2 separate regions of the Homo sapiens genome follow, and region 2 is linked to region 1. Evidence: fine-mapped expression QTL. A gene starts in region 1. The other region holds a variant in brackets. All regions are shown on one strand. Distances are from middle to middle. Region 1 holds the start of SLC25A26 (solute carrier family 25 member 26). Region 2 overlaps LRIG1 (leucine rich repeats and immunoglobulin like domains 1).

Region 1 (4,393 bases):
CGTATGAAAACTGTGTGAGGTAATAGAAGTTTATCGTTGCTTTAGTCTGTTAAATTTTGGGGGTAATTTGTTACGCAGAAATAGACAAATAATACAGATTTTGGTACTTGGAGGTGGGCGCTACTGTAATTCCTAAACTGTGGGAGTGCCATTGGCACCAGGCAGTAGGTGAAAGGTGGGAAGACTGTGAGGGAAATGTCAGTGAAAGCTTATTAATAGAAACTTGATGGCCTTTGAGGAGGCTGCCGGTGAGGGTTTATAGGAATGTGAAGTAGGCAGGATTCTAAGGTGGCCCTCAAGATTCCTGGCCCCTAATGTGTTTTGCATAATCACCCCACTGATTGTGAGCAGGACCTGTGAGTATGACAGAACATTACCACCATGATTATGTTGTCACGTATGGCAAAAGGAATTTTTCAGATATAATTAAGGTCTCTAATCAGTTGACTTTGAGTTAATAAAAATGGAGATTATCCTGGGTAGGCCTGACCAAAGCACATGAGACTTTGAAAGACATTAATAGCAGCAACAGAGATTCTTCTGCTGGCATTGACAAAGTGAACTAGCATGTTTTGAGAGGGCCTACAGGCAGCTTAGGGAAAGGTATTCTGGGTAGAGAGAACAACATGGGCAAAATTAGGAGGCTTGGAAGTGTATAGTCTGTCTGTGTGTAGTCCGGCTAGTGGGAAGAGTGACAGGAGACACCAGCTGAGAGGTGTATACCATGCTAGGGAGCTGGACTGTCTCCATTGGCAGCAGAGGGGAGTTGTAAGCAGGGAAATAACATTACCATCACCTTTAGAGAGTACTTTCTATGAGCCAGGAACTAGGCTAAGAACTTGAGTGCATTATCTCATTTAATCTATTAATATAATAGTACCGCATGACAAAGTGACTATCATTATCGCCACTTTACAGGGGAGAAAACTTAATCTTGGAAAACTTATCCCCAAACCCAGCAGGTGATAGAATTTGAATTCCATCTAACACCTAAAGCTATTCTGCGTATCATTTCTAGATCATTTTACCTAGAAGAGAATAAGAATAATTATAAGAATAATTCTAGCAGTGTTATAGAATAGGGATTGAAGAAAGGCCAGGCAAGGAGCCTGCTCAGGTTATTATAACGGTTTTGAGGAAAGATGATGAGGGCATTAAGTATATTTTCAGTGCTTGCTCTGCTGTGTTCTCTGTAGCCACATTGAGTCGGTTACTTGTTGGAGCATCAGGAGCCTCTGTAAAATGAGGACACTAGTGTTGCTGACATCATAGGGTTGGTGAAAGGATTAAATGAAAAAATGTCTGTCAATCACTTAGCACCACGTCTGAGATGTAGTTGGCCCTTAATATATACAGAAGTTTACAAGGTATTTGTTTGTTTAATAAAGACAGGTCCACTCCAAGAAATGTTATTAAGTACTTAATAACGTGTGCTTTGAGGTGTACACATGAGTACAACAGCGAACAACATGAGCAGGTAAATAACTGAACAAACAAATAATTTTAAATGCAGTAACTCTGTAAAGAGAAATGGAGGATGCTAATTTTTAACTCCGGTCAGGAAACTTCTGATGTATTTTTCTATATCTTTATTTAATAATCTTCTGATAATGAGTTAATTTAATATAAACTCAGATAAAATTTTTTGACAAAACTAAGAGATAAACCAAAATGAAATATCCGATTAGGATCCCGAATCGCGCCTCCCGAGGTTAGTACTACCCCTCACGACTCCTCCCTCCGCCACAGCCACGCCTCTTCTGGGTTTACAGTTCAGAATCACGCCGGCCTCATTCTACCGCTGCTCTCTCCTGGATCTCGGCCACGGATCTTTTGCTCGCGAAAGTTCCTCCGTCTAGCTGCACACAACGCTGCTGCAGGAAACCGAGGTAAGGGATTTGCCGAGACTTAGCTCCACCACACTCCCCGAGGCCCCGCCCCTCCTCTCTGGCCCTCCCCTAGGCCCAGGTGTCTCGCGTTGCACGTGCAGTTGTTGTGGTTCTACGTCACGTGGTCCCGGAAGTTCAAGACAGACCCGCCTCAAACATGGCGGCGCCCAGCGCGCGAGGACGTGATCCGCTTCTGCTCCGGCTTGGATTGTAGCCTTGACGAGGTCTGAGCGACCATGGACCGGCCGGGGTTCGTGGCAGCGCTGGTGGTGAGTGCGGGGCGGTGGGGTGGGTTGCTCAGAGTGCCGGCGTCCGGCATTGGAGCCCGCGGGCGTTCTCTGCACTGGTTTTCTTCCGGTTTTGCGGGCTGGACTGTCCTCGGGTTACTGGCAGCCAGGTCTGAGAGGGAGCACGAGGCTCCCAGGCCACCGGCGGGCCAGGTGTTAAGGCTATGTCTGTACTGCCAGGTCATAAGAGCCAGGTGGGGGAAGGAAGGTGAGTCATTGTCTTTTGCACCCTCATTTACTTAAAAAAGAGCTTCTATTATACACTGTTAACTACTCTTTCATTAAATAGTGTAACTACTCTAGAGATCTTGGGAATTAAAGAAATGTATGTAACACAACAACAAAAACCTTACTCACATCGCTCCCAGCCCTTCTATTCAATACTACGTTTCTCATTTTGCTGCATCTCTTTTCAGTCTTAGAAAATGACATGTCCTTCTGTTCATTCAATACATAATCTGCTATTTCTGCTCCAAGCCTAGGCTTTGGAGAAATATTGGTGAGCACACATAGCTCATCGGGAACGCTGCGGAGTCAATAAACAGGCTTAGTATTTAATTCCGTAGCAGAAAACTACGAGAATCAACATGAATTAACAGAAAAAAAAGTCCTTTACCAAATATTTTGGAGCGTCTGGTAGAGGATACTAGATACAGCAGTTAACAAAACAGAGTTTGGCTGCCTACGTTTTCATTGTGTGGAATGGGCAGAGACAGACAAATAATTTTTAAAATGATTTTCATAGGGAAAATGGAGGCCCACAGTGATTTAGTCACTTAATTATCGAATTTTGGTGTTGCAGGTGTTGAGGATAACATGGTGAACAAGATAGACCTGCTCCTAAGGGTCAGGTGTTAGAGACAAAATAGTAAAATGACTGTTGGGATAAATAACAGGTGGGCTAGGTTCAGGGTGTTAGGGGAATATATGGAAGTAGGGATGTCTTAGCCAGACTTGTAGGATGATAGCTTTAAATCTAGATTTGTTGAAACTTGTATAAGGTAGGTCTTAGAAATATAAAGAAATAATGTTACTGATTTTTTTTTTTTTTTTTGAGAAGGAGTCTCACTCTTCGCCCAGGCTGGAGTGTGGTGGCGCCATCTCGGCTCACTGCAGGCTCCACCTCTCGGGTTCACGCCATTCTCCTGCCTCAGCCTCCCGAGTAGCTGGGACTGCAGGTGCCCGCCACTACGCCCAGCTAATTTTTTGGGTTTTTAGTGGAGACGGGGTTTCACCGTGTTAGCCAGGATGGTCTCGATCTCCTGACCTCGTGATCCCGCCCGCCTCGGCCTCCCAAAGTGCTGGGACTACAGGCGTGAGCCACGGCGCCTGGCCAATGTTACCGCTTTTAAGGAGCTTTCCTGTCTAGCTGGTGACACAGCAGCAGTAGTTTGTCAGCTAACATTCCTGTGCCAGGAACTGGGGTAAGCTCTTTACATACATTATCCCATTTAATTCTCACAATAATTGAACTCTTATCCTAATTTTCCAAATGAGGGAAGTGGGATACCAAGAGATTAGATAACTAGTTCAAAATCACACAAGTGAGATCCATTTCGTCTGTGTAAGTATTGGAGCTCATATTCCAACCCAGGTGATGTCACCTGGGAGTCGTGCCCTTATCTGCTTCTTGATACTCTCCGAAGTCAGCAAAGGTTGCAATTGCTAAAACACAGGTGAGTGCTGCAGTTAACAAAAGAATGGATTTAGTATATACTTAATTAAAGTATGATACACATGCAGTAAAGTATACTTTTTTCCCAATGTATTTATAGAGGGTAAAATTAGAATCAATAGGTGGAAGTTTCAAGAAACTAGATTTCATTCCAGGTAAAGGAAAAACATTTTATTTATGCATTCAGCACACAATTTTTCTTCCATCTATTCTGCCCACTGGGTATTGTGGTAGGCTTTGTAGATACAGTGGCAGATAACCCCATTTCAAGTAGGGAAGAAAGGCCAGCAGATAAAACAGTTGCAATGAATAAGTGCTATGAAAGAAATGAACTGAAGATGCGACAGAGTAGGCAAATATTGGTGAACCTCTTAGATGGAGTGACCAAGGAAAGCCACGAAGTGGTAACATTTCAGCTAAGACCTAAAAGATAGGAAGGGGCTTGAATTTTTGATGATCAGAGTGGGAGGTTCAGTCATGGGGAATGGCTCAAGTGGAAAGAGCTTAGAGTTTTCAAGTGGTGAGGCCTAATGGGTAAGGAT
Region 2 (4,393 bases), 160 kb after region 1:
TCCCCTGGAGTAACAGTCCACTTCGGTGTTGCAGTCACTGCATACGACCCGGCCACCGTGTTCTGAAGGACAGCGCCAAAGATGGGTTAGAGTCACTGCTGTGGGAGTCTTCGTCCCCACACAGAGGACAGGCTGCTCAGCTCCACTGTGCAAGGTGAGAACCCTGACTGCAAACACTGTATGCATGCTTCCTCTTTTCCCCAACTATGTCCCCAGAGAAAGGACTGGGCAAACACCAAGTCACTCATGAACTGTGGGGTCTTTCGTGTTTACAGTGAATTTCATAGACAATGTAGTCTTACTGCTTCACGGGGGAAAAGCCATTAGCCTTAGGTACCATGCAGTGTTGGGTCTTTTCAACAATTAGAAATAAGCCTCAAAATAGCCCTGGTGAAAAAGTGCTGACTGAAACTCTATACTTCGTTTGTGCCTTGCCCCTTATTTAAGTTGCTTATACATCTAGAAAATTCATGCTCAGGCTTACCATGGCGTAGATTTATTTAGGAGAAACTATCCTGGAATTAAGAGAGCCAGGCCTGAGCTTCCCCTGTATATACTGAATACCAAATTTGGAGACAGCTGTGGACTAGGAATGTGTCTCCCCCTTTGATGTAGTGACTAGGTCAGCCCAAATTTCCATTTCAGAAAGAAACTACTTCCAATGGGAAGCATCTCATACCCATCTTATGTGGCCCAGGTGTCCCTTCAGCTTTCTCCATCGCTTTCCACGGCTCTTTGTGATACGCAGACCCAGCACAGAGCTTTGGCTGCCTGCAGGCAACGCTGTGAGTGTCGGGCTCTGGAAAGTGGCTTGCATCTCTTGGACACACACCTGCAAGTGGATTCCAACACGATTAGAAACTCTGGGCTTGGTATTTCACAGTAAGCCTTATGAAAGGAATGAGCAAGGCCGCTAGAACAGTCATTTTTTTTAAAAAGTTCTTCAGAGCGGTGGGGCTGCTGGTCTGGCAAGCAGCGTGTTTTCTGCTACTACTTCCCAGCAGGCAGGCTGGCCTTGTGAAATGAGCAGCTGTCTCAGGGTGAGCCTCTACAGTCTCAGGCAAGTGCTCAGAGGCCCCCACCGTTGGAAGTACCTCATCCTGGTGACAGCTTTCCAGTGTAAGACTGGATCACAGAGCAGACCTGGGCACGTTCCCCATGTAAGGAATGGGTTGGCTGGGTTCATGCACCGTAATGCCCTTTCCAGCTGCTACTCCAGGCAAGCCTACTTTATCCTGCCAGGGAGATGCTAAGCCCAATCCAGTGGCTTCCTGAGGGGACAGGACTTTAAAACCTTGCAGAACTCATGAAGACTGGGTCCAAAATAGCAGCCCTTAGTCATACCGCCTTCTACTTCACCAAGTTTGCCCCATCTAATGCCAGGTACCTGCCCTGTAAAGACCTGGAGGCCACCTCCAGCACCCAGAGACACAGTCACAGCAGAGCTCTGCTTCACAGTTACTGAGGCCTTACCATTGCTCTCAATGTGCCCATTGGCCTGAGGGCCACCCTCGGTCCTGACCACGGTTTCTTGTCGGTCAGAAAGGGTCCCCTGAGAAGAGAGGTAGCTTGGAACATCTGGTGGCACGACGGTTTCATCTGCAAGGAGACAGAACAAATAGAACACCAGGGTCTCAGTGACAAGAAATGCAGACACACGTTCACTGTCAAGCTCAGAAAGGGGATCCTCCCAGTGACGACCATCAGCGCTGTGCAGAGAGATGACATGGAGTCCATGTACGCAACAGGCCCTCCCAGAGCCTGCTCAGCTTTACTCTACACCCAGCGTGAAGAGCGCAGCCAGCAGATGCCAGACGCCACAAGAAGTGGAGACCAGTGATGGAAAGCCGGGGCTCACAGAAGTACCGCACTGTTTCAGGAACAACCTACTACGTGGCAGCAGGGCCTGTGCATAGGCGGCCTCTGAGTTAGCAAGGAGAGGGAAAACTGCATGGTGCGTCAGTTACTTGTATTTGTGAGTATTCCTGTTTAAGGTTAAATTTGAGAGTATTCCTGTTTAAGGTTAAGTTCCTCAAAGTTAAAATGGAATTAGTGGGACTAAACCCTCAGGAGTTCTGAACACAGTGC[A/G]ATTCTTTCAAAAGCCACTGGAACCCGGCCCAGTTCCCCAGCATCACTGCCATTCCTCCCTCCTTGAAAGTCAGCTCCGCTGGCAGGGCCTGACCTGTGTTGGTGACACTGTACTCTTCACTCTTCTTCCTGGTCTGGTAGATGATGCACACCCAGACCAGTGACGTCAGGACGATGCTGCTCACGACAGCAATGGTGAAGATGCCTACCGTGGTCCCATCCTTCCTGCAGCCTGCTGCGGGCAGGACGCTCAGCTGGCTGTGAGCTCGCTCCGTGCCCAGGGTGTTGGACATCTCACAGGTATATCGGCCCGCATCCTCTGCCACCACGTTCTGAACCACCAGGAGCTGGTTGTCAGGGGTCAAGTGGTGCCGCTCAGTGAGGCTCAGCGGGCGGTCCCCCTTGAACCAGGTGATGCGGGGCGGAGGGTTCCCCGTGGCTTTGCATTGGAGGGCCACTGTTTCTCCCACAGATACCACACGGTCTTCCAAGGGGACCACCAAGGATGGGGTCTCTACAAGAGAGCAACAGAGATCTTAGTCATTCTCAGGGCCTCCGTTGCTCTGGCTCTGCCCGGTCTTCTGGACAACGGACAATCCAACATATCAATGAGATGCATCTGAGATTCTGTCTCAGAGTGGCAAGCTTTGGAGAAGACCCTTCAACTCATTGACTGAGTCATCTCCATGCTGGGAGTGGCTTCCACAGGGACAGTGAACCTCTGCTGACAAAAGCCCCTGCTATTCCCTAACTGTCCTGTGTCAGGCCTGTGTCCTTATTCTTGACCAAGCCCACATCCATCCTGTCCAATTCTTAAAATGTTCTGTAGCTCTTGACCAAGCCCACATCCATCCTGTCCAATTCTTAAAATGTTCTGTAGCTAAACCCTATGAAGACTCTTAATTCACCAGCTATCATTTCTTTTAAAGAGATAGAAACACTTGTTTAAGAAAAATTAACTCAACTCAAAAAGCAGCCCCAAATTTCAAACAGGGTCGAAAGGCCCACAACGCATACCACCCCTGGCCACACAGAGCATTTGAGAGTCTCTCTCTCTCGCTCACACACACACACACACACACACAGTAGAGCAATAGGCAAACCTAGGACAGTCAGGGTGGCATTAGCTGAAATAGAACCGGCTGAGTTCTGAGCAGTACAGCTGTAAACCCCTGCGTCATCTATTTTCACATCAGTGATGAAAAACACGTCGTCATCCGGCATGACATGCATGCGTCGCTCACGGGCAGCGGGGAAATCCGTGCCTCCATCCTTCTGCCAGGCAATCTGAGGGTTTGGGTGACCTGTGGCAGCACATTCGAGGCGGGCCATGGTGGTGGTCCGGATGGTTATGTCGTGGGGCGTTTTGGTGAATGATGGCAACACTGGAAAACATACGTATACAGGGTCGGGTTACGGGACAGCTAGATGCAAAACCAGGAAGTCCTCTGGCAAACACCTACCTGTCACTGTGCCCAGTGCCAGTTCACTTCTTTTCTCCCAATGTCTGCCCAGGACCACTCCTGCCACCTGTGAATCAGGAACCCCCAGCTTCTCCCACCACAGTTGGAACACTTCCATCCCATCAGCCTTGCATTGTACACCCTAGGCTGGCTATAGTCCCTTCAAAGCAAAGGCTTTTACTCTACATGGCAGTGCCTATACGGGAGTTGCAGGGGGTGCCCATCCACACTAGGTAGGCCTGATGCTTGCCTGCTTTACCCACCAAGAGAGAGGCTGTGGAGATGGAATTACAGAGGGAAGGTGGGCATGCCTCCACCTTGGGAGAGCAATGGGATGGCTCATCCGTTTGGATGGGTGTTCATGGGATGAATGGGATGGCTCATCCATTTGGATGGTTGTTCACCCAGGCTGTTCCTGCCCACTGCCGTATACCCAGGCAGGAAGCATTCAGCTTGCTAGCTTGCTCAGCCTAAAGATCGATGTCCTGACAGAGTGGGACGCATCCAGCCACGTGTCAGGCACCACCAGAGTTCCTGTCAACGTCAATTTTGGGGAGAGTCTAACAAACAGCTGAGTCTTTCGGAAGCTGTGAGGACTTGGAATAAGCCAAGACAACCCCACTACAGTGTGGTAAAGAAGGTGTTTCGCTGTGATCTGTGGGGGCTTAAAGAGCAAAGCAGATCCACCATTCTGATGATTCTCAAGCCAATTCTTTTTAACTAGAGAGTTAGTAATCAGGATAACCCCATTAGGTTACTGGGGTGGGACAGTAAACTCTTCAAGCTATCTACTCCCCACCCCCCTCCTCCAAACACACAATAACACATGGTCCCCTTGACAA

Evidence for each region. PIP is the estimated chance that this variant, and not a neighbour inherited with it, causes the effect. A credible set is the group of variants that fine-mapping cannot tell apart.
Region 2: its variant is the best candidate, but not a certain one, in a credible set for the expression of SLC25A26 in whole blood (INTERVAL, PIP 0.76).

Annotation. Positions count from the first base shown.
Region 1 is chr3:66,218,970-66,223,362 of GRCh38, forward strand. It overlaps SLC25A26 (solute carrier family 25 member 26), which reads left to right and starts at 2,032. Exons shown (of 10, transcript NM_001379210.1): 1 at 2,032-2,158. The coding sequence starts at 2,126. RefSeq lists enhancers at 1,645-1,804, 1,975-2,034, 2,156-2,655.
Region 2 is chr3:66,380,800-66,385,192 of GRCh38, forward strand. LRIG1 (leucine rich repeats and immunoglobulin like domains 1) reads right to left here. Exons shown (of 19, transcript NM_015541.3): 14 at 3,192-3,473; 15 at 2,183-2,602; 16 at 1,474-1,599; 17 at 680-832; 18 at 1-62. Among named protein-coding and RNA genes, the nearest start is that of LRIG1, 120 kb to the right of the region's middle. RefSeq lists enhancers at 1,896-2,397, 2,398-2,897. The variant A/G (reference allele first, on the strand shown) is at 2,089.